Homo sapiens: one gene and its partner. The protein of the gene in region 1 interacts with the protein of each later gene in a pairwise test. Each region holds a gene or a part of one and is shown on either strand. Other genes may lie near its edges.

Evidence for each region.
Region 2: the proteins of CHODL (region 1) and ZDHHC21 interact in binary tests that used the Homo sapiens proteins (3 or more experiments, as listed by UniProt).

Annotation. Positions count from the first base shown.
Region 1 is NC_000021.9:18,237,859-18,251,180, reverse strand, and holds the start of CHODL (chondrolectin isoform a precursor), read right to left. Parts: upstream 6,349-13,322; 5' UTR 5,958-6,348; coding exon 5,879-5,957; intron 5,307-5,878; exon of another isoform or gene 5,234-5,306; coding exon of another isoform or gene 5,212-5,233; intron 1-5,211. UniProt on the Homo sapiens protein: May play a role in the development of the nervous system such as in neurite outgrowth and elongation. May be involved in motor axon growth and guidance.
Region 2 is NC_000009.12:14,652,703-14,665,374, reverse strand, and holds part of ZDHHC21 (palmitoyltransferase ZDHHC21), read left to right. Parts: intron 1-3,048; coding exon 3,049-3,160; intron 3,161-6,487; coding exon 6,488-6,626; intron 6,627-12,672. UniProt on the Homo sapiens protein: Palmitoyltransferase that catalyzes the addition of palmitate onto various protein substrates. Palmitoylates sex steroid hormone receptors, including ESR1, PGR and AR, thereby regulating their targeting to the plasma membrane.

The DNA of each region.
Region 1 (13,322 bases):
TAACTATTGGCAGAGGTTTAAATGCTCTTGGCAATGATATAAAGTGGGGCCAAACTCATGAAGTCAGGGTAGTTTGCTTTTTCTTTCTGAGCAGAAAGGATCTATAATTTGGTTTTCTTTTTGCTTATATTTGTTTATTTTCTGATAGTTGAGTGCTCAGTTAGTTATGAAAATAATAAATATTTTCTAATATCTCACGCTATAATTATATATTATTAATATTAGATGAATATTGAATTTATATCACTTTTTCAATAAAAATATAAAAGACATATTACAAATTCCTGCTGTTCAATTATGATCTACCATTAGTTGCAAAAAAAAGTAAAAAAGAGCATCCACATGGTAAATATTCCCCAAACCAGACTGAATTAACTTAGAATGTTTTATTAGAATCACACAAGATATTTTTTTCTTTTTCATAATTTCTTCTTACCCCCCTCACAATCACACTGATAAATATGTTGATACTACCATACACAGTGCAGCAAGGACTGTGATACCAGTGCCAACACTTTTGAACTAAAAAGAAAATGACTGGTGTTCAAGTGTTCTGCGTTCAGCATTCAATGTTACACCAACTTCTTAAAATTTTTTCTTATAAAGAGTTTTATTATAATAAACTTTTATTTTTACAACAGAGATTTTATAATGTACTTAATTGCATAGTGCACTATAGCTGGAGTCTATTTTCTTACATTAATAAACAAATTTATTTATAATTTTATTTATAATTTTAAATTAAGTTTATAAATGTAGGTTGTGGTCATTTTCTGGATGGTGGCAGCAGCAGCAAGCCCTACTTTTCCAGTTGGAAAATGCGTAAGCTTTCTGAGAAGAGCATGAGACTATTTTTTTAAAAAATCAGAATATTTACAATGGAGATTAGAATAATAAGTAGTAAACCAAGTATCATTGTGACTTAAGAGTTCATGTAGCCAATCAAAATGAATTAGCTTTGAAACCAAACTCTACACTTGAACTTTGGGTACTTGAGATTATTTAATCACCCCTGGCCTCAGTCTTCTTACTTAAATAATGAGACCAGTTATGAGTTTTATAGAAGTAATGATTCTAATAATAAAAGCCTCAAATTTAGCAATAATTTAGAATGTAGCACCTCATTTCTACCACAATCCATGCTTTGGGATAAATTGGGAAAAGACGACCTCTCCTGGTGAGAGATGGCAGAAAGGTCCCTCTTATAGACTGTTCAACTAGAAAAAGTTGATTTTGCCTCTAGGTAGCTTGAGCTACAGGCACTGGGCTTGCCAAGCTGAGCTCCTTCTCCTGTCTCTTTGGCTTGTACCTCGACACAGTGCACAATCTGCATAACTGTGTTTGAACCTTTTTAATATTCCTAGCAATCCTATGACATAGGTGCTCTTATCTGTTTTCAAAATGAGGCAAAGAGGGCAGTTCACACAGCTCACAAGTGCTGAAGCTGGGTTGTGAAACCAGGCCATCTGGCTCTACACTCCATGCTTTTACCAGGTTTCTATGCTGTCTCCATATGTCTCAAACCTAATATAAAGGTGAAATATTTCATGAACAAAAGGGATTGATGAACACAAACACTGTGCATGTTATCTATGTCAGAATCATAAGCATTAATCTGTTATTGATTATTGGGTGGCTAATATAAGCAAGGCTTGTGCATTGAGAGCTTGTTTCTAAACAGAATTAGATTTTCTGTTACAAATATTTAAATAAGAATTAATGTTGCCTCTGTCTCAGATTTTCAAACCATATATGCCTTTAATAAATTTTTATCTAGTCTTTTTATTTTCCAAATAAAACAAACTAGATCCAAATTGAATGCATTCCACATTACAAAGAGTATAACTTTAGCCAAGTTGTCATCCTGTGTTATATCATGAGGAATATGTTAAAATAGTAAAAGAAACACTCTCATCCTAGAGTCGCACACATCCATCTACTTGTATATGAATTCCTGACACAGAAAGTTGTTGTAAATAGTAAAAATTGTTTGTGAGTGCATCTTCTGAATTTTAACCTTGGACTCCTTTATATATATATATATTATTATATATGTATTTTATTATATATATATTATTATATATATATATTTTATTATATATATATTATATATAGTAAATTATATATAATATATATAATATTATATATATTAATATTATGTATAATATATATTATATATAAATACATATATGTATAATATATATTTACATATATGTATATATTACATATATATGTATACATAATATATATGTATACATATATATGTATTATACATATATATGTATTATATTATAGGTACAATACATATATATACACATATACAATGTATATATACATACATATACAATATACATACATATATAATATACATACATATATACACACATATACATATATACACACATATATTATATATAACATATATACATATATATTATACATATATATTATATACATATATATGTATATATTATATACATATATATGTATATAATATATACATATATGTATTATACATATATATGTATATAATATATACATATATGTATTATATATATTATATATGTATTATACATATATTTTATATATATATATAAAATACATTACCTTTTATAAAGGTAATGTAACAGATACTGCCATCTTTGGGAAAGAGTTATAAAACAAAACCATAAAATGATGACAAACAGCAGTTGAAGAATAATGGCTATGATAAATGGTTAGTTCATTAAATGACTGGTAATAAGATTAATTTGTTCCTTTCATGCCCGAGAGATACTTAAAGTAATTGCATCTCTGAAAACTGCACTGTCATCATTTTATGCTTTTGATGATGTCATAGATTAGTTCCATAGGCTGAGAAAGGCTCAGCAGTTTTTCTTGTATCTCCCTTGGTATATATTATATCATATTGTATTAATGTATGTGCTACTGTTCACCACCCATGAATTTGCAATATTCTATGGTATCCACAGGATAAGAAGAGAGGCCTCTAAATCACCCAGTCTCCTAAATAAAACATGTGCCAGTTTTAATAAAGTTAAACTGATATATATTAAAGTGTCCTGGAGAAATCTGGAAGCACCATGAAATATTCCTAATGTCATTTTGCAGCAAAAATAGGTTGGGGATCACTGCTATGCACACTAGAAAGAAAAAAGGAAAAAAAAAAAAGAAACACATTACTTCAAAACACTTCAAATGTTTAAAAGTATCACTTGCTCTTCAAACATATCCTCCCAACTTAGAGACCTGAATTTGGAATCCTTCATATTTATCCTTATGCCTACAAGTAAAATCCTTTTACCTTTGTCCTAAAGAAGACATCACTACTCACCAGTCACTTCACAAAATTAAATGATTGCAGCTCCCATAGATATTCTCTACACATCTGTGTGTAGTAAGAAATCAGTACAGGTCTAAGCTCCTAAAGGTAGTTTCCAAATTAGCATCATAAATTCAATAAATAGGCTTTGATTACTATCATCATATCACATCTTGTTTTGCATATTCGTACATCAAAATAATCATGACCACTGACCTAGAAAAAATACTTTCTTATTACTACTAGATGCCACTAAATCTCATGGGTCAGATTACGATGACGAAGTTGTTTGAAATGTCATTTCTTGCTAAAATATATCCACTTTATTTTTAGGTAATGCTCTAAACTTTAGAAAAGGTGATGTATTTAAAAGTATTGGAAAGTACCTTATTGAATATTTTAAGGTATTAAATATAATTTATGTGGAGAATTATTTTGTGAGTGTCTATTTTTCTGCGGTCAGTGATTATTTGAGTATCCTACATAGAAATTATAAATTGTTGTACTGAAATTTAACAAATAGAAATATATTCCATACGTTGCAAGTATGTTCCTAATAACAGCCCCAAAGAGGCTCTTACTCTTCAATAAAGATTTGGTGAATGGTCCCAAGTGGCACGAAAAATTGATGCACCAATTCAAAACTTACATTGACCAGGTAGACAATAGATCCATTAGAAACTATTGCTACAAAAATGTCAGGCTTCAGGCTGCTCTGTTCTCTGGCCATTGTGGTCAAAATATATCTTTTTAAGAAATTAGTCTTCAAATAATAAAAGTCACAAATCAATTTATAGATGGTTAAATTTCAATGTGAATTTTATGACCAAAGACAATTGAATTATTCATAAGGAAAACATAACTAATTATTTTAATATCAAATAAACATCATCATTTATGCTAAATCAAATAGATCATGTTCAGTTAATTAGAAATTTTCCAGATGTCACCTACAAGATGCCTATAAATGCTTAATAAGAAAACCTAACAAAAGATTTGGAAAAAATTATGTACTCATAGAACGCAAAATACACCTCTTCAACAATTTTTTAAGCTCTGTTTTTACTTTAGATATTATTTTTCCTCCCTTTAAAATGTTGAGGCCTAGGAACAAGAGCATATCTAAAGGATATTATTTAGGTCAATGAGTAAAAAACATCTTATGTTCAAAGCATGGTCTCTGCTTTTCATTCAGTTGCATGAATAATTCTGATAAATACAAAGACAGATAAGTAATTCACAAAATCAGATGAGTCTATATAATGAATTTTTTCTTTGCAGCTAACTTAGGGAGGAAAAGGATCTAATGTCACAGATTCTGAAAATTCTGAAAAAAGTGTAGAGTGATCGGTAACTACACATGTAAGAACTATATTCTGAAGCTGTAGAACATCACAAATTGCTAAGGGGAAGATCAGTGACAATTAAGCTTAATATGCCAATGTCTAAAGGTCTGGCTTCACAGCTGAATTACTTGCTGTCATCTGTCATCTATTTCTACATCTAGTGACACCTGTTGTATAGGTGTACAAAAGTGAAAAGGGCTATTTGTGCTTTTTATGTTTTAAAAAAACTTTTCACCCTCAAAACACATATATCCAACAAATACTTATTGCAATGTTTCAATGAGCATAGTAAGAGATTTCAATAAAGTGTAGCTATGATCAGCCTTTATGTAAGGCCCTAAGCACATTCACCCTAGGTTGTCGAGAATCTGTATCCTTTTGAAGAGACCGTCCCAAAAAGTAAGGGAGAGTAATTGCAATATAAATCGCTCAACGACAGGACAGTGAGAGTCAAAAAAAGAAAAATCAAAGACAACCTGGGAAGCTTGCCAATTTTGATCGATTTCCCATGCACTGACTCGACCGACTTAATTGTGCACCTACTGTGTGCCGAACCTGCAGTCATTACCAAGTATACCTCGGCCCAACTCCAGCTGACTTCATTTTCTGGGAAGTCCCCAACTTGGAACGCAGTGTGCAAAGGAAAGGCATCTACACGCAATGACCACACTTCAGTTCCTTGCCAGTAGTCCTGCTGAGAACAAAGACCGAATGCCCAGGCATCCGGAGGCGACCCACAGCGAACTGATCTGGTCACAGAAAGCATCCGAGTGAACACGGTGCTGGGACCAAAGTCCAGTCAGAGCGACAGAGGGTGGCATTTCTGCGGTGGCTCTTCTGTCTCTGGGTTCCCTCTGCCTCCGCCCTACCCCACCCCTTTGGCAGGTGCTGAGCCCGGCCGTGTGGTCAACTCTCTCACAAAGAAAGTGGAAATCACTCCTGAAAAAGGCTATGCCGCTCGTAATGAAGCAGAGGCTCGCTCCGCAGCTACGTAAGCAAGCGCTTCACAAAAATTTAAACTTTTCTGCGTGTGTGTTAGAGAAGAGAGGGAGGAGAACAGCACAATCAATTTCTCCCCGCCTCCTCCCGGGTCCTTACACCATGCAGGTTTCCAACGCCCCGGAGAGCCTCCGCCCGAGAACAGGCTGCCCGCCGCGCCCCGTGGTCCCCTCTCCCCGCTCGTTCTTCGGGGAGACGGCCCCTGACTCACCGCTGACCACGCGGCGGCAGAAGGCTCCGTGGCCGCAGAGCAGCGCGGCGCCCAGCAGCAGCGAGACCACGCGGCTCATCGCGGCGCGGTGGCAGCAGCAGGTGTTGCGTGGAGCGAGGGCGGCCTCTGCCCAGGGCGCAGCCCGCGACTCTGACTCTGCAGCCTCCCTGCCTCCCTGCCGGGCCCTACTCCCGCCGCCCGAGCCCAGCTGCCCGACCCCCTGCGCGCATCGCCTTCGGCCGGGACCTGCCGCCTGCCGCGCCTGTGCCGCGCGTGGATGTGCGGGGCTGGAGTTCAAGACTTCGAGGGTGCGCGTTTGGGGGACTGAAGTTAGGGGGTCCCGTGTATGTCCTAGAGGCGAAGCAGAAGCCCCGGCTTGGACCACACCGTTGCGCTTTGCTTCTCTTCCCCGGCCTCTGACAAGTGAGAGGCTGAGCCGGTGCGCCCTGGTCCTGGATCACAGCAGCAGCAGCCGCTCTGCGCTCAGGCACCGTCTTATATACCCACGTCCCGAGGTTCCGGCCCCCTCCCTAGTAATAATTTTTAACTACTTCGTCTCTCCAGCCATGTGGAGCATCCCAGCACCTCCCCTAAACACGGGAGCCCCTTTGAAAACAGTCCAGTCAGCAGCCCGCCTCCTCTGGTCCCCTCCTCCCTGTCCCCTCTTTCCATTCGCTAGCGGACTGGATACTCTTTGTGTAAAATGTGACAGCTTTGCTATTAAACTCTGGCAAAAAGTTGGATCCGTTTAGTTTTCTCAAAGATAAATGTCTACGGGGTTGCCAAGTTGTGTGGCCTTTCTCTTTCTGTGCTAAATTGCTTAATCATATGTATTGCTAGATGCAGGGCACTAGCCACTATTTAAGATGGATTGGTGAAGTGAGAGCCAAAACCTGCTCAGTGAATTATATAATGTGGCAGGTTTGTCCCCACCTAGGTTCTGCAAATAGATTATCTCCAAGCAGGTTGTTTGACGAAAACTGCCACAAGAGCAAATTGAAAGGAATATTTGAAGCATGGTTTTCGAAACTGATTTCACTCTCAGTGTTTGCAACTCCAGAGAAAACCGTCAACACAAAGTAGGCATTCTGAATTCTTGGGAATTTCCTGGAGGTAAAATGAAATGTATGTATTTCTTTGCAATCATCTATCAGTGATCTACGATATACATTAGAAGTAAAGCTCATTGGAAAACCTGCATTTTTCATAACCTGACCTGCTCTCTTTATTAAAACAGTCTACCCAAGGACTGTGATACCTAGTTTCCAGGAATACTGGAGAGAAGTTCTTAAGAATTTAATGTATATCAAGTCCATAGTATGAACTCTGAAAATGTTCTCATAATGAGCTTCAGTAGAATTGGTATTTTCTCATTATGTTGCTTTAAATGCATGAGAATTTGTTAAATAACATTACTTGTCTTATAGGAAGTACACTTTCCTCTAACTTCCTCCTGTCTTTGGTTTCATAAGCCACGGGTACACTGTAAGCATCTGTTGGACTGTTTTATTGGAAAAAGGAAGTAAATACTGATACAATAAGGACAAATCTTCCAGAATCAGAAATTTTAGCACTTGGAAAGACCTTAAAGATTATTAAATGCACCCTACTCGTGACAGTAGAATTCTAGCTCCGTCTGGAGTCCCAGCTATTCCAGAGGCTGAGGTAGGAGTTTGACGCTGCAGTGAGCTACAATCCAGCCACTGCATTCCAGTTTTGGGGACATGCAAAATCCTGTCTCAAAAAAAAAAAAAATAGAATTCTAAAATAACTACAATAATGTCTATTCTATCACTTCCTTTTTCTTATATTCCCTTTAAAAACACTAATTCATTGCAGAATCATGGGCAGTTAATAAATTTGCACCTTGTAGAGGCTATGGATTCTGTGACTTTCACACTAGCTAATTATTCACGAGAAACAGACACTGCTGGGATTCTGAATGAAAAATGGAAAACTGATACGCCTCCAGGCAACAGAGCTATAGCTCAGCCCCGGAAACCATGTCAAAGAGCATCACTGGGCATAGCCATGGTAGGAGAGCTGTCCTCCAGGGGCTCAGAGTCCAGTGTAGAGAAAGAAATAAAATAATAACTCTGTGTATAAATGCTGTAATGGAAGGATGAATCAAGTGTCATGGCTAGCATAGATAAGAAATTCATTTGGAGGCATATTTGCAGGAATTCTTTAGCAGCAGTCAAGGTTGATGGTGGTGATACCCATGGCTTCTCCAAATACCTGTAGAACTAGGGTTCTGAAGGGGATCTCCTTTCCCCTTTCATGCCACCCTACTCTCAGTTACTCATGCCCAGAGCTACTGTAAACAGGTCCTTCTTTGGGAAAGAATACCAGTAAATTACAACATAAGCACTAGATAGATATTCCTATATATCAGTAGGCCCAAATGTCTCTCATGCCTACAAAGCTAGCAAGAATGAAGGCATTTTTTGTCAGGAAGGATCTTCATGGTATTAGTAATTCAGGAAGCCCAAACTATAATAATAACTGTATCCTCAATATGTTTGCACAGACTTCCTAACATACAGTTTCTTATCTTTAGGCTAGAATTATATCAGTTTAAGTTGGCCACATTCATTAACTAAGGCTGTTCAGCAGTTATTCTGGATGTTGTTTGACTTATCAGGAAAATAAATTCTTACAGGTTCTTTTTAGATATGATGTTTTTTAAGGTGACTGGCTGACAAGAACAGCTTTTTTTGTTTGTGTCTCCGTCACTTCAAAACATCTGGATGGGTCATCACTGAGTTCAGAGATCACAGTTTGAGTTGTCTTAAATATAAAATCTGAGTGTTACTAGGCATGCTCTTTGGAGAGCCCTGATGGAAGCTTCTCTTGGCTTCCTTTTTTTTCCCATACAATATGGAAAAAAGTAGGGGCTATGAATTAAAATTTTTCAACAAAATTGTATTTTGGAAAAATGTTACAAGGTTATTGGGAGTTGGGGGAAAGCAACAAATATTCAATAATTTTATTAACAAAGGATTTTAATTTTTCCCTCTTGTGGATATGCATAAGGTGTCATAGAAGACACATGGTTTTCTGATGACACATTTTAGTTCCAAATTAACTAAACAAAATTAGAAGTTTAAGAATTGTTTGCAAATTGATCCAGAAATTAAGGGCTCTTTCTAGGGCAAGCGAGAAGAGACTTTAGGGTTATGTGAGGAATTGTGTATGTCTGGAGCTGGGCTCCAGGTCAGCTCATACCAAACAAGACCATATGACTGGCAGTCAGGAGAGAGGTCCCCCACAAGTTAAGGGTCTTTGTCCATTAAAAAAAAAAAAGACTCAAATGAGAACTTCAAACTGATTAGGCTAAGGAGCTCAGCATCTATTCAACACCTAAAATGCATCACTTTCTTCAAGCCCCCAAATAGAAGGATGATCTCAGTAAAAGTGGCCACAAAGGAATTTCAGGAATAAGTCGATCGCTGAATCTCCAGAGGCTCTGAAACATCAATAGAGAAACACTATTTGGAATCCAACGTTTTCAAAAGTGATATCAGGACTCTTAAGGGTATACTATGGAATCTATATAATATCCCAAATATATCACGAACTCCTTCACTCTCACCATTCACTTTCAAATGTCTGCAATTCCCAGTGAGCATCTGCTTCATGCGCCCATCAATACGTCTCAAGGAAGGACAGCCTAAATTCCAGCCACTGATCTGCACTCAGTGGCTCTTCACATGGGCAACTCCATACAGTGGCTTCAGCCTAAGTCACAGCAGGCTTCATTCATTTGCGCTCCAGATCGAACAGTGACAAATAGGATCTTCAAAGGAGATTTGTTACAATGTTTAAAATTATTACAACTTTACATTAATACATTTGAGATGTTTTCAGAATCCAACATTAACTAACCAATATTATTTATTCTATTATACTTTATCTAATAACAGTTAATGATTCTCCTGAGCACTATCAATAGTATTGCCAGGATATAGAAAAATAAATATTTGAAAGTTTAAAAGTAAAATCATTACTATATAACCACTTCAGCAATAGGCAAAAAGTTTTTTTTTTTTTATCTGAGTAATGCTTGGTTATCACTTCCAGTAAGACAGCATTGAATCCAAGGTTTTCCCTCCCAATATTTTAGAGATGACACCTTGGCATCTGTGTGGGTGTGTAACTGGCTTAAATGTAAGGATAAGCAGTTGGCCAAATTCACCTGAGATTTACTTGCTCTTTTCAAAACATGTCTATGCTGTAGAATACATGACCTACCTCATTCAGGAGCCAGTTCCACCTTCCTCATAATCCCAGAAGTCAGTTTTTGCAGGGCTGTCTAGGGGAATTTCATTGTTCATAACGATATCAGAAATATAATGAAGAATTATACACATTAATACACATGATTTTCTATAACTTGAAGTTAAAATTTCATAACTGTTCAGTCTGTTGCATGCTCTGATCATTCAGGTGATCAGTTAAAAATATTTATAGAACTCCATTACTAGTAATATATCCTATCAGATCTAAAGAATCATATAAATATATGTGCATGTTTAACTATCAACTCAATTAAAATTTCTTTTTAATGCTTCTTTATTAATTTAAAGTAATGAAATCTGTTTCTATTGCTGGTAATCTGGTATAAACCAATACTTTTTATTCTAATCACAGCTTAATTACTAAATCTTGCCTTAATATATGTTAATACAACCAAACAAAATTGAGATAATCAAACAAAAAATGTGTAAGCTAAAGTCATCTTTGCCTCAAGGGTCTGATCTGAGTTATTAGATACATAATTGACTAACTCCTTATTGGGGGTGATATTGTACTACGGTAAGATTATTTGGCTAGCAGAAACATTAATCTAAATTTTTCATTAATCTGATCTTGGTCAACTTTCCTCTTCTGTTTGGTTTTCACTTTATAAATATAAAAAGAATGAATTGGAGAAGTTCTGTGTTTCCTGACTGAATGAGATTCTACTGCAGAAATACTGTTATTTCATAAACTTTCCTAATGTTCATCTTTATTCTACCCAGCCAGAATGTCATATGTTATTTGCATATATGCACTAATTTTCCAAATATATATAGATGCTATGCTTCTAATGAAATGTAAATTTAATTGTAAAATGTCACTTAATTTATAAATCTTTTCCCATATATTCTGATCAATATTTACCAAAATAACAATTGCTATTATGCGGGGTCTGAAAAACAATACGTATGTTAAAAATAGGGCTTCATACTCAAAGAAGTTGGAAATCGCTATGCTAGATATTTCTAGAGTCCTTTTCAGCTTTACAATTTATTTCACTAAAGAAAAAAAAGCTTAACATCTTCCATCTCTTTTTATTTTCTTCCCTTCCTCCCTCCCTCTTTCTTTCTCTTCTATTTTTTCCTATAAAAATGACAATGGTTTGATTTATAATAAATGGCTATATCCTCATTTAATTTCAAAATTGTTCAGAAAATGGGAGTTCTGAAAATTTTCTATGGTCCTTTGACTAATAAATCAACATATCACAGATGCCACAAAAAATGAAAAATCCAAATAAAGCAAAATAAAATTGAGGGCCAAGTTGAGTAAAAGATAATCCAACTAAGAGGCCATAAAACTGTAAATGAATTTTTGATAAAGCAAGATATTTTCTATAAAAGTGTTTTATTTTACTAAAAGGGAAAGGGTGTAAAGAAAAGGAATAGCTAAAGACCTAAAAAAATGTAAAATATTCCTTTGTGGCATTCATAAATATTAAATGTTTCTCCAAATATATCAAATGACTAGGAAACAATAGTGCCAAAGCCAGCCATAATAGCAATAAACTGTATTATGTGAGCTGACATATAAAGTTAGAGGGAATTTAACGGAAAAAAACCAAAGGTATTAAGAAAAAAATCAATTTAAATATCCTTCTGGAGGTACATCTGTCACTCTGCTGCTCTTTCATACATCGTTTCTAAGCGTAAGTAGCTCACATGCCAAATACATGTGTATAATGCAGGACAGCAATATAGAAATTTTGGAAATAATAAGGAATACTCTGTCAGATAAGCCATAGATATCAGCACCCGTAAACCTTTCTTTATCCTCTAGGTTACCTTTTAAAAAGGAAAAGTTATTATTTATCTGCAATAAGGTATACATATTCTACATTCCAAAGAAACTCCTATAAAATAAACATGAACAGAAAGGGAAAAACAACAAAAGTAAGTGTATTTCTATTGCTTGATCCTTTACAGCAGAAAAATTTAACGGAGCATGTTACAGTAAGAAATTTGTGCTATAATATTTCTCTCCAAAGAATGGACACAAAAATTCATAAGGTAGTCTTAATTTTCTAGAGTGTTAAAGAACATCAGAGAGCTACAAAATTATCATGAATGTCTTAGTCATGTACTTCCTGTCTTCTCTAATAGGTAAGAGTCATTTAATCTGGCACTAAAAAATCAGAAGTAATGTTTTTGATGTTTAAATATTTATGATGTTGAATAATACAACAATTACAAAAATATGTATATAAAGTTCTTCATACAAGACTAGGATAATCATAGTGGACTCAGGCCCGTCTGTGCTGAGACTCATTTACTTGTGACTGTAAAGACTTCTGGAAAAAATATTACTTACTGGGAATAAAATGGAGCATAAAGCTAGACCTCACAATCTTAATACTCTAATCAATTCCACCACCCATCCACAGCAACCCCTCCCTGAACTTTCACATAACCACATTGGTATGGTTTGGCTCTGTGTCCCCACCCAAATCTCATCTTGAATTGTACTCCCATAATTCCCGCATGTTGTGGGAGGGACCCACTGGGAGATAACTTGAATCATGGGAGCACTTTCCCCATATTGTCCTCAAGGTAGTGAATGAGTCTCACAAGATCTGATGGTTTTATCTGGGGTTTCCTGTTTTGCATCTTTCTCATTTTCTCTTGCCACCACCATGTAAGAAGTGCCTTTTGCCTCCCACCATGATTCTGAGGCATCCCCAGCCTTGTGAAACTGTAAGTCCAATGAAACCTCTTTCTCTTCCCAGTCTCGGGTATGTCTTTATCAGCAGCATGAAAATGGACTAATATGCGCATCAGTTTACATGGCTTATTCTAACATGTTAAGGACCACTAGAACTCTGGTGTCTCTTCCCAGACTCTATACTGGTTTTCTCTAACCCAAGTTAATAGTTCAGAGTGCTGAGAAGCTTTAGGACAATCATAAAGGAAGTGAAGATACTGTCTTTCTGTCCTTGCCTCCATCTACAGAAAGGCTTTCCCTGACTAATGATCTAAGTCCACCTCTGCTTATCCTCCCCCAGTTTTTTCTATGACTGCATCTATAATTTAACAAACATTTATTGAGCACATATTGCACTTATTCTGTTAAAATTGTGGGCGTATTTATTTAATGTTTGTCCATCTCTACTAGGTTGTAAGCTCTGAGCTAGTTTATTCTCCAC
Region 2 (12,672 bases), on another chromosome or scaffold:
CAATCAGACGTAGATTTGGTCTTTTCACATAATCCCATATTTCTTGGAGGCTTTGCTCATTTCTTTTTATTCTTTTTTCTCTAAACTTCCCTTCTCGCTTCATTTCATTCATTTCATCTTCCATTGCTGATACCCTTTCTTCCAGTTGATCGCATCGGCTCCTGAGGCTTCTGCATTCTTCACGTAGTTCTCGAGCCTTGGTTTTCAGCTCCATCAGCTCCTTTAAGCATTTCTCTGTATTGGTTATTCTAGTTATACATTCTTCTAAATTTTTTTCAAAGTTTTCAACTTCTTTGCCTTTGGTTTGAATGTCCTTCCGTAGCTCAGAGTAATTTGATCGTCTGAAGCCTTCTTCTCTCAGCTCGTCAAAGTCATTCTCCATCCAGCTTTGTTCTGTTGCTGGTGAGGAACTGCGTTCCTTTGGAGGAGGAGAGACGCTCTGCATTTTAGAGTTTCCAGTTTTTCTGTTCTGTTTTTTCCCCATCTTTGTGATTTTATCTACTTTTGGTCTTTGATGATGGTGATGTACAGATGGGTTTTCGGTGTGGATGTCCTTTCTGTTTGTTAGTTTTCCTTCTAACAGACAGGACCCTCAGCTGCAGGTCTGTTGGAATACCCTGCTGTGTGAGATGTCAGTGTGCCCCTGCTGGGGGGTGCCTCCCAGTTAGGCTGCTTGGGGGTCAGGGACCCACTTGAGGAGGCAGTCTGCCAGTTCTCAGATCTCCAGCTGCGTGCAGGGAGAACCACTGCTCTCTTCAAAGCTATCAGGGACATTTAAGTCTGTGGAGGTTACTGCTGTCTTTTTGTTTGTCTGTGCCCTGCCCCCAGAGGTGGAGCCTACAGAGGCAGGCAGGCCTCCTTGAGCTGTGGTGGGCTCCAGCCAGTTCGAGCTTCCCGGCTGCTTTGTCTACCTAAGCAAGCCTGGGCAATGGCGGGCGCCCCTCCCCCAGCCTGGCTGCCGCCTTGCAGTTTGATCTCAGACTGCTGTGCTAGCAATCAGCGAGACTCCGTGGGCATAGGACCCTCCGAGCCAGGTGTGGGATATAGTCTCGTGGTGCGCCGTTTCTTAAGCCGGTCTGAAAAGCGCAGTATTAGGGTGGGAGTGACCCGATTTTCCAGGTGCGTCCGTCACCCCTTTCTTTGACTCGGAAAGGGAACTCCCTGACCCCTTGCGCTTCCCGAGTGAGGCAATGCCTCGCCCTGCTTCGGCTCGCGCACGGTGCGCGCACCCGCTGGCCTGCGCCCACTGTCTGGCACTCCCTAGTGAGATGAACCCGGTACCTCAGATGGAAATGCAGAAATCACCCGTCTTCTGCGTCGCTCACGCTGGGAGCTGTAGACCGGAGCTGTTCCTATTCGGCCATCTTGGCTCCTCCCCCCGAATTCAAAGTTTTAACACTGGGATGTTTGGGAGCATTGAGCTAAGTAGGGGAGTGGAATATGATATGCTTGTGACATTGTAATATGCTATAGATTAAATGAGTTTTTATTTCACTTAGAGGTAAATAGTACTAGTTTAACTATGTAAATTAAGCTTTAGTACTGTTGCTCTTGCATGATTTATTTTCATTAAAATAACTGTAAGAGATGAAAAAGTATTTTCTTTTAAAATAAGATTTCAAGTATAAGAGATAATTTCTCAACTTTCATATTATTGGAACAATTAATTTGATGTAGGTTTTATTCATACTTTGTTTCTTCAGAGATGTCTGTAGTGGGAGTATTTTCCCAACGCTTTACTATATAAAAGTCCAGCATGTTGATGTTGCTCCTGACCATTCAACTAAAGTAATGGAATTCAAACAGAGAATCTTAAAAAAGAAGAAAAAAAAGAGAAAAAAAAGAAATAAAAATATCAATATTGGTAAAAAAAAAAAAAAATCTGTAATCTGAAAAAAAAAAGAAAATTGAATATTGTCTACTATTATCTTTCACTTTTATTTAGAATCTTTCATTTTTTGATTTTAGACTTTTCATATGTCAGCAAGCATTTAGTGACTACCTAGTATGTGCTAGGGTCCTACTCTTCATGTACTAAAATTCAATCTGAATATAGGAGTTAGGCTAATCTTACTATGTCCATACTTTTAATGAGGTTATGGGATAGTATAAACACAGATGATGAAAATTAAAAGAATTTTGTAAAAGAAAAATTCCATTCCAATATATTTAAAAGATACATTTTTGTATAATAAGGCAATTGTCTTTTCTAGGAAGATGACTCTTCCATAGTTTTCGCGGACCTAATTAGGACAGTTTTTAATGAAAACAAAAGCCTTTTCTCTTATGCAAACTTTGTGTTTTTGGCACAGAGCTTAATCGTGTGCTGTTTCACTCCAGATTAGAGGAAATTGCTAGTTGGTGGTAGTTCAGTGTTTTATGAAGAACTCCTTTATTTTCATTAAAAATAGTAGTTGTCTTATAACATTTTTCACTACTGAAACTATTCTGATACCTCCCAAACCCATATGACATCCTTCTCTAACCTGTCCCATACACACTCTTAAATGAATCTACTGATGTTTTTTAAAATTAAATGATTTAGGGAAAGTGTATGTGGAGGGAAATGCCATCTGTTTTTCGGATGAGTTTATAGGGTTGATTTCAGTTTACTAATCAATTGAAACCAGGGTCAGCATTATTTCTTCTTTAGAGCCTTTAGAAAATGAAATTTCTAGAAATCAATTTGTTTAAATAAAATTGTTTTAGTATAATAATTTGGTTGGGCTCTAGGGTTTTGTCATTGGATTTTACTTATATTCTCACAGTATACCCAGAATCCAAATACATTGTTTTCTGTCTCTTACTTTGACTATAACAATAGTGTCTTATTTTTTTAGTCTTTTAAATTAGAAACACACAAAATAAGACATATGTAGAATAGAACAGCAGCATTTATGGCAAACACATTTATACCAAAGGCTTAGAAGAAAAATCTCTTAGAGTTTTATGTTGAAGGCTTCCTATAAAATCTTCTAAACAACTGTTGGTAAATTTCAGCATTACCCACTTGCCTTCATTAAATGGATTTTAATTTCTTTTCTTTAGAAAGGGAGTTCTGGGAATTATGTAACAAGTGTAATTTGATGAGACCAAAGCGTTCCCATCACTGTAGCCGCTGCGGCCACTGTGTGAGGAGAATGGATCATCACTGTCCATGGTAAGAATAATTCACTTCTAGCAAAGAAAAGAGGGGTGGGTAATAAAATGTAAATCTTACAACTTGGCAGCTTTAAACAACAGTTATGTTAAAGTTATATAGTTTTACAATATCTTAATAAGGATATCTTTATTTAGATTATATGGTTCTGTCAACTCCCAAAGTCATTTTTCCACAGAAATCCTATCTTTTCTAACAGGGAGAGATTTGAGCCAAAAAAGTAAGAATTAACTGCAGCCTGATATACAAAAGGATTAAGGTGGTTGTATTAAATGAGGCAATGTATATAAAACATTTACTACAATATCTGACAAGTAGGATGTACTTAAATGGTAGCTATTTCTAATTGTAATAAACCATATGCATCCGAATGTTTATATCCCCTTTTCATTTGTTTAATTAATAACATTTCAGACACCCTGATAACCTCTTCCTTACCCCTTAAAGCTTTTTAAGCATTATGTATTGGATATAGCTACTACCATTATGTACTTGTTGGAAGTATGTGAGTGATAATTAGCTGATTCTGCAGAACTGCTAACAGTTTTGGTCAATAGGGGGCTCTCTTGTAATATTTAAAGAAAATGTTCAGTTGAGAAATATAATCTTCGAAAACAAATGCTGCGTGAATTCTGTATTGTATCTCATTTTAAAGCTGTCACAAAAATCTGTGAACAAGATATTGTATTTAATTCTGTTTTCTTAGCATTGGCTCTCTGTATAAATATTTAAACTGGTATAGTGTAGAATTTGACAAATGTATCTGTATACATATATGTAGTATTTATGTTTGTATACACATACATGCATATATGCAAATTTACATAATGAGCCTCTTAATTTATAATTGCTTTTATTTAAAATTGATGCAAGTGGAGTTTAGCTTTTTCTAATGTTAGTCTATTTAGAGTTTTCTTTATTTTTGATAACTTATTTTGATAGCACAGTTATTCAGCAAACTTCTGGTGGAAATTTGTTTTTTTGCATAGACTGTTTAAAAAGAAGATAATTTCCTGAAATAGGAAAAAGTAAGAGCATTTTCGATAAAAGCATTTTGTTACTACATAAAAATTTTAAAAATTTCTAAATCTGTCAACAAGATAGAGTAGTGTATGACATATAGTTGATATTCAAAACTGTGCCTTGAATTTAAACGTAAATAATTATTTGGGAATTACTTGGGAATAAAGATTAATTCCCAAGTAATTTTCTTAAGCTCAGTGATCTGTTTGCTCTCACAATAGTAATAGATTTTTAGAAAGCTACGTGAAACATGTATTCAGATAATTGCTGATCATACAGAAAAGCTCAGTTTTTAAGCGCTTCTTATTGTAGAGTTTCTTATTCACTAAAATACAAATGTTCATGATGGAAGTGGATATTGATGCTTTTTTTTTCAAACGAATGCAGTAGTAAGAAAGAACTAGGAAAGACTCACTTATTGGTGACCAAATAAGGTGCTATTTAACCTTAATTCTAACGTTGGGGTGATTTCTCTTTCTGGGCCTCTTGCTTCCATAGTTTTAGTCAACTTTTCAGAAGTTGGTAGCAGTGAGGGGGAAGTACAAAGGATTGGAGGATCAGAAAGGAGAGTAGACAAGGGACCTAAAGAGATTCAGGAATTTTTATCATTGAATTTCCTGATAGAGCACTGCTGAAATGTTCAGAGAGCAGGGGAAATGTACAGTGTAAATTGGAAGCAAGGAAAATTTTTGATGTTTTCAGAAATTGCACTACTTAACTGCCTAAGACATTTTTAGGTTTGGAGGTCAATTCTCACGTTGCCTCAAGGTTTTCTGTATTTGTGGCTCTGATCATTCTTTTTTTTTTTTTTTTTTTTTTGAGATGGAGTCTTACTCTGTTGCCCAGGCTGGAGTGCAGTGGCATGATCTCAACCTCTGCCTCACTGCAACCTCTGCCTCCTGGCCTCAAGTGATTCTCCTGCCTCAGCCTCCCGAGTAGCTGGGATTACAAGTGCATGCCACCATGCTTGGCTAATTTTTGTATTTTTAGCAGAGACGGGTTGTCACCATGTTGGCCAGGCTGGTCTCAAACTCCCAACCTCAGGTGATCTGCTCCCCTCGGCCTCCCAAAGTTCTGGGATTACAGGCTTGAGTCACCGCGCCTGGCCTGATCATTCTTTCTAAGTAGTGCAGATGTTACAAAAAGAACTCATATAGATTGAATACCTTAGTGCTTCTTAAAGCTGTTCTGGTTAAGAAGAATGCTGTGATCATAGACATTGTTTCTCAAACTTCCTGGGGACAGGAAAGATGGAACAATGATAAGTCATCTTTCAATCGGCAGCTGTTGAAGAGCACTTTTGAGTGTATATTAATACATAAGCACACTTCTCTTATAATCCTGCTTGCAAATAACAAAGCACAGTAGATTTTCTTGTTTACAAAACATGCACTCTTAAATCTTAAGAAATGCCTCTCTAAGGTTTTTCAGTTCAGGTCTGTATTTGACTTTAAAAAATGGTTTAATGACAAAGTTAAAAAGAGCGATTTAAGTTAGGACCGAAACCTGTTACATCGTTTCTTTTTCAGTGACAGTATAATACTATTTTGAAATGAAAACATTTGTGCAAAGTCATTTGTAGTCTTGAACTAGGGTTTTTTGCTGGAATTTTAGGATACTTTGACAATTTGGATACAATAAATTTGGAACAATAAAATATTCAGCTTAAATTAGCCTTGAAAATTTTTTATTGTAACATTAATCCTCTTTCCTAGTTAGGGTTCACTGTTGTATTGGTGGAAGTATAGCTGTGTGTATTTATAAATAGTTTTGAATACATTTTTATTTTCAGCAACCAGGGGTAGATTTTTAAAATGAAAAGTGAATGCTTAGCAGTTATGTCAGAGTGGTATGTTTCAGCTGGTTTACTTCAGGGCATTCAGATTGCTTTTCACAGCTAGAATGCCCTAAAGGAAGAGCAAAATACAGGGAAGCAGGGTTCTTGCTCTCTTGGCCCCTATGTCTTCTAACTCTACATCCTCTGGCCAGAGGCTTAGCTCCTTTGTTCCCTGTTTCCATATCAGTGACACAGGAGACTACCGTCTGCTCTTCCTGTCTCGCTGAGTTGTTATGAGTTGAAGGGGGATCACATATGTGGACTTCCTTTGTGAAGTGCTTTACAAATATAAGATGGTATATTTATAGTTTTCTCTGTATAGTTTGTTTTTACCTTCAAGTGGCCATAGCATATCTCCATGAAGTTAAGCATATGTGATATTATTTGTTTTTAATTTAGTCTTATTGATCCTGAGGTGAACTTCTTGAAATTTAAAATATTGTTTCTTTTTCATTTTTTTTCTTTAGGATTAACAATTGTGTTGGTGAAGATAATCATTGGCTCTTTCTGCAGTTGTGTTTCTACACTGAACTTCTTACTTGCTACGCACTGATGTTTTCTTTCTGCCACTATTACTATTTTCTTCCACTAAAAAAGCGTAATTTGGTAAGAAATGTTTATATTGGGAGGCCGAGGCGGGCGGATCACGAGGTCAGGAGATCGAGACCATCCTGGCTAACACGGTGAAACCCCGTCTCTACTAAAAATACAAAAAATTAGCCGGGCGAGGTGGCGGGCGCCTGTAGTCCCAGCTACTCGGGAGGCTGAGGCAGGAGAATGGCGTGAACCCCAGGGGGCGGAGCCTGCAGTGAGCCGAGATTGCGCCACTGCACTCCAACCTGGGCGACAGCGAGACTCCGTCTCAAAAAAAAAAAAAAAAAAAAAAAAAAGAAATGTTTATATCCACTAACATTAGAGCAGTTGTAGCATACAATTATTAACATGTGGTTCCTTTAAGTACAAAAGATTGGAAACAAAACAACAAAAGATTGGAAACAAAACAACAAAAGCAAACTCCCAAATTGGTGAATTTTGAACTATATTGGGATTGAGAAAGTGGGCCCTAGTCTGACATTTCCTTTTAATGAAATTCATTTATGGTTATTTATTAGTGTTGAGCTTAGAAAGCAACACGTTGAATCTTTCAATACGTGTGTCTTGGTTTAAAAATATCTACAATAATGAAAAACAAAGACAAAATGTTCTTGTTTCTTTTCAGGAATAAAAATGCAGAATGTAATTTTTAAAGGTTCTCAAATAGTTACGTTCTTGAGAAAGAGAACTTTTTTTCTCCCTGCCTTTCATCAGTAATGATATCATGAATTTGCAGGATGCTTTAAAAAGTTATCCACTGAGAATATAATGCATGCTAGGACTATAGTTTTAGAAATGTTTCATCTTATTTATAGATAAATTTCTGATATAATTGGCATTAAAGTTAGATCATGTAAAAGAATGTACATATTCCCTGGAGTAATCTGTTTCAAATAATTGAGCCTAATAAGAAAAGCATTAAAATAAAATTCCTCAGTAAGATTAAGGTAATAATTTTTTTAAGCGACAGAGAAGTAGAGTTTAGTGGTGTTAATGAAAAACAAAGACAGGCTAAGAGGTAACGAATGCATTGTAGTATAGTGCAGTATTGGCAAACTATGGGCCTTGGTTTAAATTCAGCCCTCTGCCTGTTTTTGTTAAAAAAAAGTTTTACTGGAAAACAGCTACTTTCTTTTGTTTATATATTGTCTATGGCTGCTTTTGTTTTATAAGAGCAGAACTGAATAGTTGTGGCAGAGACTGTATGGTCTGTAAAGCCTAAAATATTAACTGTCTGGCTCTTTTACAGTAACTTTGCCAGCCTCTGGTAGTGGAAAGATCTTGTCTTTGTAAACAGACATACCTAGGATTAAAGCCTGTTTTTTCTTATTACATGCATAAGTTTTGACACATTGTTTAACCTCTCTGAATGGTAATTTTCTTCCACTGAAAATGTGAATAATAATGAGATTAAATGAAATAATATATGTAAACTTAGCTGGTATATAATAGACATTCAATTTATGTTACATTTGATTTTAGTGAAAACTCTCAGAGGGAGGAAACAATTTTTCTTTGGCCTATTAATTTTCATGAAAATTTTAGAGACCGTTTTACAGTAACCATTTATTACTGGAAGATTGATGACCAACTAAGGAAATTCCAATAATCAAATGAAGTATTAAGACGTTTGAAATTACAAACTAATTTTCTTCTCCAAATGAAAGGTAGAAACTGGAGAGAAATTAATGGCAATTAGACAGTCACCTTTTTTTAAAATGGAGAAATGGATTATGGGTTATATTTGAATATACGACATATATGTGTATATTTACATGCATAATGAATGTTGGAAAAAGATCAGCAGCATAGTAAATGTTTATTAAGAGATTAAAAATATCAGGAAGAAGAAAGTATATAAAAAGTGAGTATAAAAAGTGGGTTTTAAAAAGTCAAACCAGATTTTCCTTAGAGCCATCAATTGTAGATGCAAGCAGGTGATTTTTTTAAATAAAAATCATAATAATATGTTAGTAGCATTTTAGCAAATGAAAATCAAATCATTATGTTGGTTGTTAGAAAGCTACTTTAGGAATGAAGCAGTACATTATAAATAATTCTAGGGATCTGACAGTTACTTGTGTCTAGTAGTGCTGAGCAGAAATCGTTCTCTTAGCCTAAGTCTTATGGTTTCCTTGTTGTATCAAGCGGTGTACTTTTATAATTACCACCATATTAGCAGTAATGAAATGAAAACTCAGATTATGTTATGAAATTTCCAGGACCATTTTGCTTCCTATTGAGGAATCGAGTAATTTTTAGTTTTGTTTATGATATATTATCTCAATGTTTTAGTTTTGTTTATATGTTATCTCAATGAATGAAGTAATTCATACATATTATCAAGTTAGGTATATGGAGAGAAGAGCTTTACCACAGTATTTCCCATTGTAAGAAAAGACAGACAAATTTAAATACATAAAATTGAATGTTTATTAGCACTGTTCTAACCTACTTAAGTTTAATAGAGTAAAGCTAAATTCTAGGACCAGAATTATAACTAAACTTGAAGAAAGTATTTTATAATCTATGTAGCTCTAAATATTCCAATGATCTGAAGCAAATGAATGTTCAGTAGTTAGTCAATATACATTGAAATGAATTCCAGTCATTTCATTGATTTAGAAGTTGAGAGTTTGAAGCTACATTATAGACACATCCAAATTTCGTTATACCTTTTTGGTGGATTGATTCTTGTATCATTATAAAATATGCCTCTTTATTCTTAGTAATGATTCTTGCCTTCAAATTTTTTTTCTGTTATTAGTTTAACTATATCAGTTGTCTTTTAGTTAGTGTTTTCATGGTATATCTTTTTCTGTCTTTAATACTTTCAACCTATCTTGATTACTGTGTCTCATAATGTGCCTTACAGACAGCAGATATTTCATTAAAAAATTATCTTTTAATATGAAACATTTAGTAAATATTTACTTAGTATAACTGGTATTTTGTCATTTTCCTATTTATTATTTGACTTCATCTGTTCTGTGTTCCCATTTTTCTCCTTTTCTTTCCTGTTTTGGAATTTCTAATTTAAAAAAAATTCCAATTTTCTATTTCTAATGGCTTTTTCTTTTACTCTTTTTATAGTTTCCCCAAAAGTGAAAACATTATTCTGATTTTTTTGAAGTATAATATAAGTTAGTACTTTACCATTGTGCACCTAATGAAAGCAGTGGTCTTGGAACACCCTCTGTCATCATCATTTTTCATATTTTGGGGTAGAAGGTAGATGTAGAAAAAAATCACATGATAACAAGACATTATTGTTGTTACATATACATTATGTGTTATATTGTTATACAAGTTATATGTTACCTATAGTCAGTATTTGTTTTGAGTTATCTACATATTGGTGCTTTTTCTAGTACTCTTTATACCTGAGCCTCCTCTAGGCTTATTTTTTCTGCTTTTAGTGCAAGTCTCTTGGAACAAATTCTCTCAGTGTTGGTTCCCTGAAGATGCTTTTATTTCTCCTTCATTTTTGAAGGATTTATTGTTTGGCACAGAATTGTAGATTGGTGGTTACTTTCGTTCAGTTTTTAAAAGATGTTATTCCATTGTCTTATGGTTTCCATCATTTCTGTTGTAAAGTCAGTTGTTGGTCTTACTGTTACTCCAATGAAATATGTTTTTCTTTAGCTGTTTTTATGATTTCTTTTGGTCTTTGTATTTTAGCAATTATTCTGTGATTCTATGATGTGCTTTGGTATTGTTTTCTTTGCACTTTTTTCTGTTGGAGAGTTTATGTAACTTTGAATCTGTGGCCTGATGTCATTCTTAAGTTGTGGAAATTTCTTGGCCTTTGTCACTTCAAATATTACCTCTGCTCAATTTTTTCTCCTGCAGTTCTGGGATTCTACTTACATGTACGTGAAGTCTCATTGTGCTGCATATGTTCTGAATTTATTTCTTAACTTTCCTTTTTTATTCCCCCTCTGTGCTTCATTCTGGATATTTCCTATTAATTTATCCTCTGGTTTACTAATCACCTCTTCTGCCATGTCTAACCTACCCTTAAATCCTTCTAATGAGTTCTTAATTCAGTTATTATATTTTTCACTTTTAGAATTTCCATTTGATACTTTCTTTCATTGATAATTTCTGTGGTGAAATCATCTATTTTGTCATCTATTTTTTTAAACGTGTTAATCACAGTTTTTAATGTCTGTGTTTGATAACTTTAACTTTGAGATCCCCTTGTGGGTCCGTTTCTGTTGACTCTTTTTTTCTTCTCAATTTCCAGATATTTGGCCCTGTCTTCTGACATGTCTAAGTTAGAATACTGAGCATTTTGCATGACAAATTGTAGAAAGTGTGATTGTGTTCTTTCCTCAGATTTGATTTACTCTTTTTTTTTGATAGGATATAAGAGAAGCCTCATTTTTATCCAATCAGGGGTTTGTATAACAAGAATTTCTAATGCTAAATAACAGAACATTGGTCTTAATATAGCAGTTTTTGGAAAGATGCTATTTATTGCATTTATTGGTATTTTGTAAGGAATCTTGATTGCTGGATTTGTCTTTGTGAAAGACTAGTTTCAATTTGCCTTTATTCCAATAGTCTAGTCCTTCGGGGTCTCAGCTGAAAAACTGAGGTGTTTATTGTGGATTGTGCCCTACAGTTACTGTTTTCCTGGCCTTGGAGATTTTGCAGGATGTTCTGAGTCTCCGGTTCTACTTGACTTTTCATTCAGTACTGAATGTGAATTGACAGGTACTTTCAGATAAAAAGCAGTGCAGAATATATGGCTCACCTTAACGCCTGTCTACTTTCTCTGAGATTTTGGCCTCTTAAGTTCTGGGGAGTTTGGCTACTTGCCAGTATCTTTAAACAGCTGTGTATTTATTAATTAATTGGATTTTATCTGGCTTTTAATAGTGTTTTTGGTGTGAGTGTTGGTCTCATACGAACTGTTTCCTCATAGGTGTCAATGGCAATAGCATTTTGTTTAAAAAATTTCTTCCCAGGTGATTTTAATCATTGCTGCCTAATTGCATAACTCCAGGAGGCAACACTCACATCATAGTCTATGTAAACAGTATCCTGTGGAGTTGTGCAGTGCAAAACTTCTGTGGCCATAAGGTCTGAGAAGTGCTGTAGAGTAGGGAATGAGACTCATGGTGGACTTCATAGGTGAGATAGAGATTAACCAAATGGGGAGATGAAGGAGGTCATTGCTGGGCAAAAAAAACAACAAAACCCTTGAGGCTGTAACTGGAATAATTGGTTTTAAGGGCAAATCTTTAGTAAAATTCCAGCAGTATAACAAACTTCTCTAAAGCTAAATAATAAAATAATGTTCTTACTTCAGCAGTTCTTTTGTAAATTACATTTACTGTGTTTTTCATAAAGGTAGAAAAAAATTACCAATAATTTCAGAACCAAAGTCACCATTATTACCATTGACATTTAAAAAAATAATGTTTTATGGTGGAATATTCTTCAAAAAATACTGCCTCATCAGTGTTTTTTGCAAGTCTTTTCCTGTGTTTCTTTCATTTTTCTCTAAAACAAGCAAAAATCTGTATCCAGCTGTTGATTATGTGTATAAAACTATGTGTGAATAAAGACAGTATCAGGAACTTCATCTTATTATCCTTTCTATTATTCAGGATATGGAATAAGATCCCCGAAGGTCCCTAACTATCTTTGGATATTGCATTAATGATTATTATACATATTTTTTGTGGGAGTAATGATGCAGTTAAAGCATGTGGTGGACTTTGACCCTGTGTTCTTCTGTCAGCCAGACTGAAGCAAAAGCTGTAGTCTGCATTTTCTTTCTACCCTTTCACGTAGATAGGTGGCAGCATAGTATCTTTTCTAGCCCATCTTTAAATTCCAAAGCTGAATGGAATTGCCTGGGTCAGAAGAGAAAGTGTTAACTTTCTTGTTTTTCTTTTCTTGTTTTTTAAGGCGAAAGTGTTTATTCATTAAACAACAACAACAAAAAAAATGAGTTGCACTTTGACCATTGATGTAATGGCACTTAACCTGTATTCAGTAGAAAACTGGTACGTTGTATGTTATGCTCATGGTAAAGACAGTT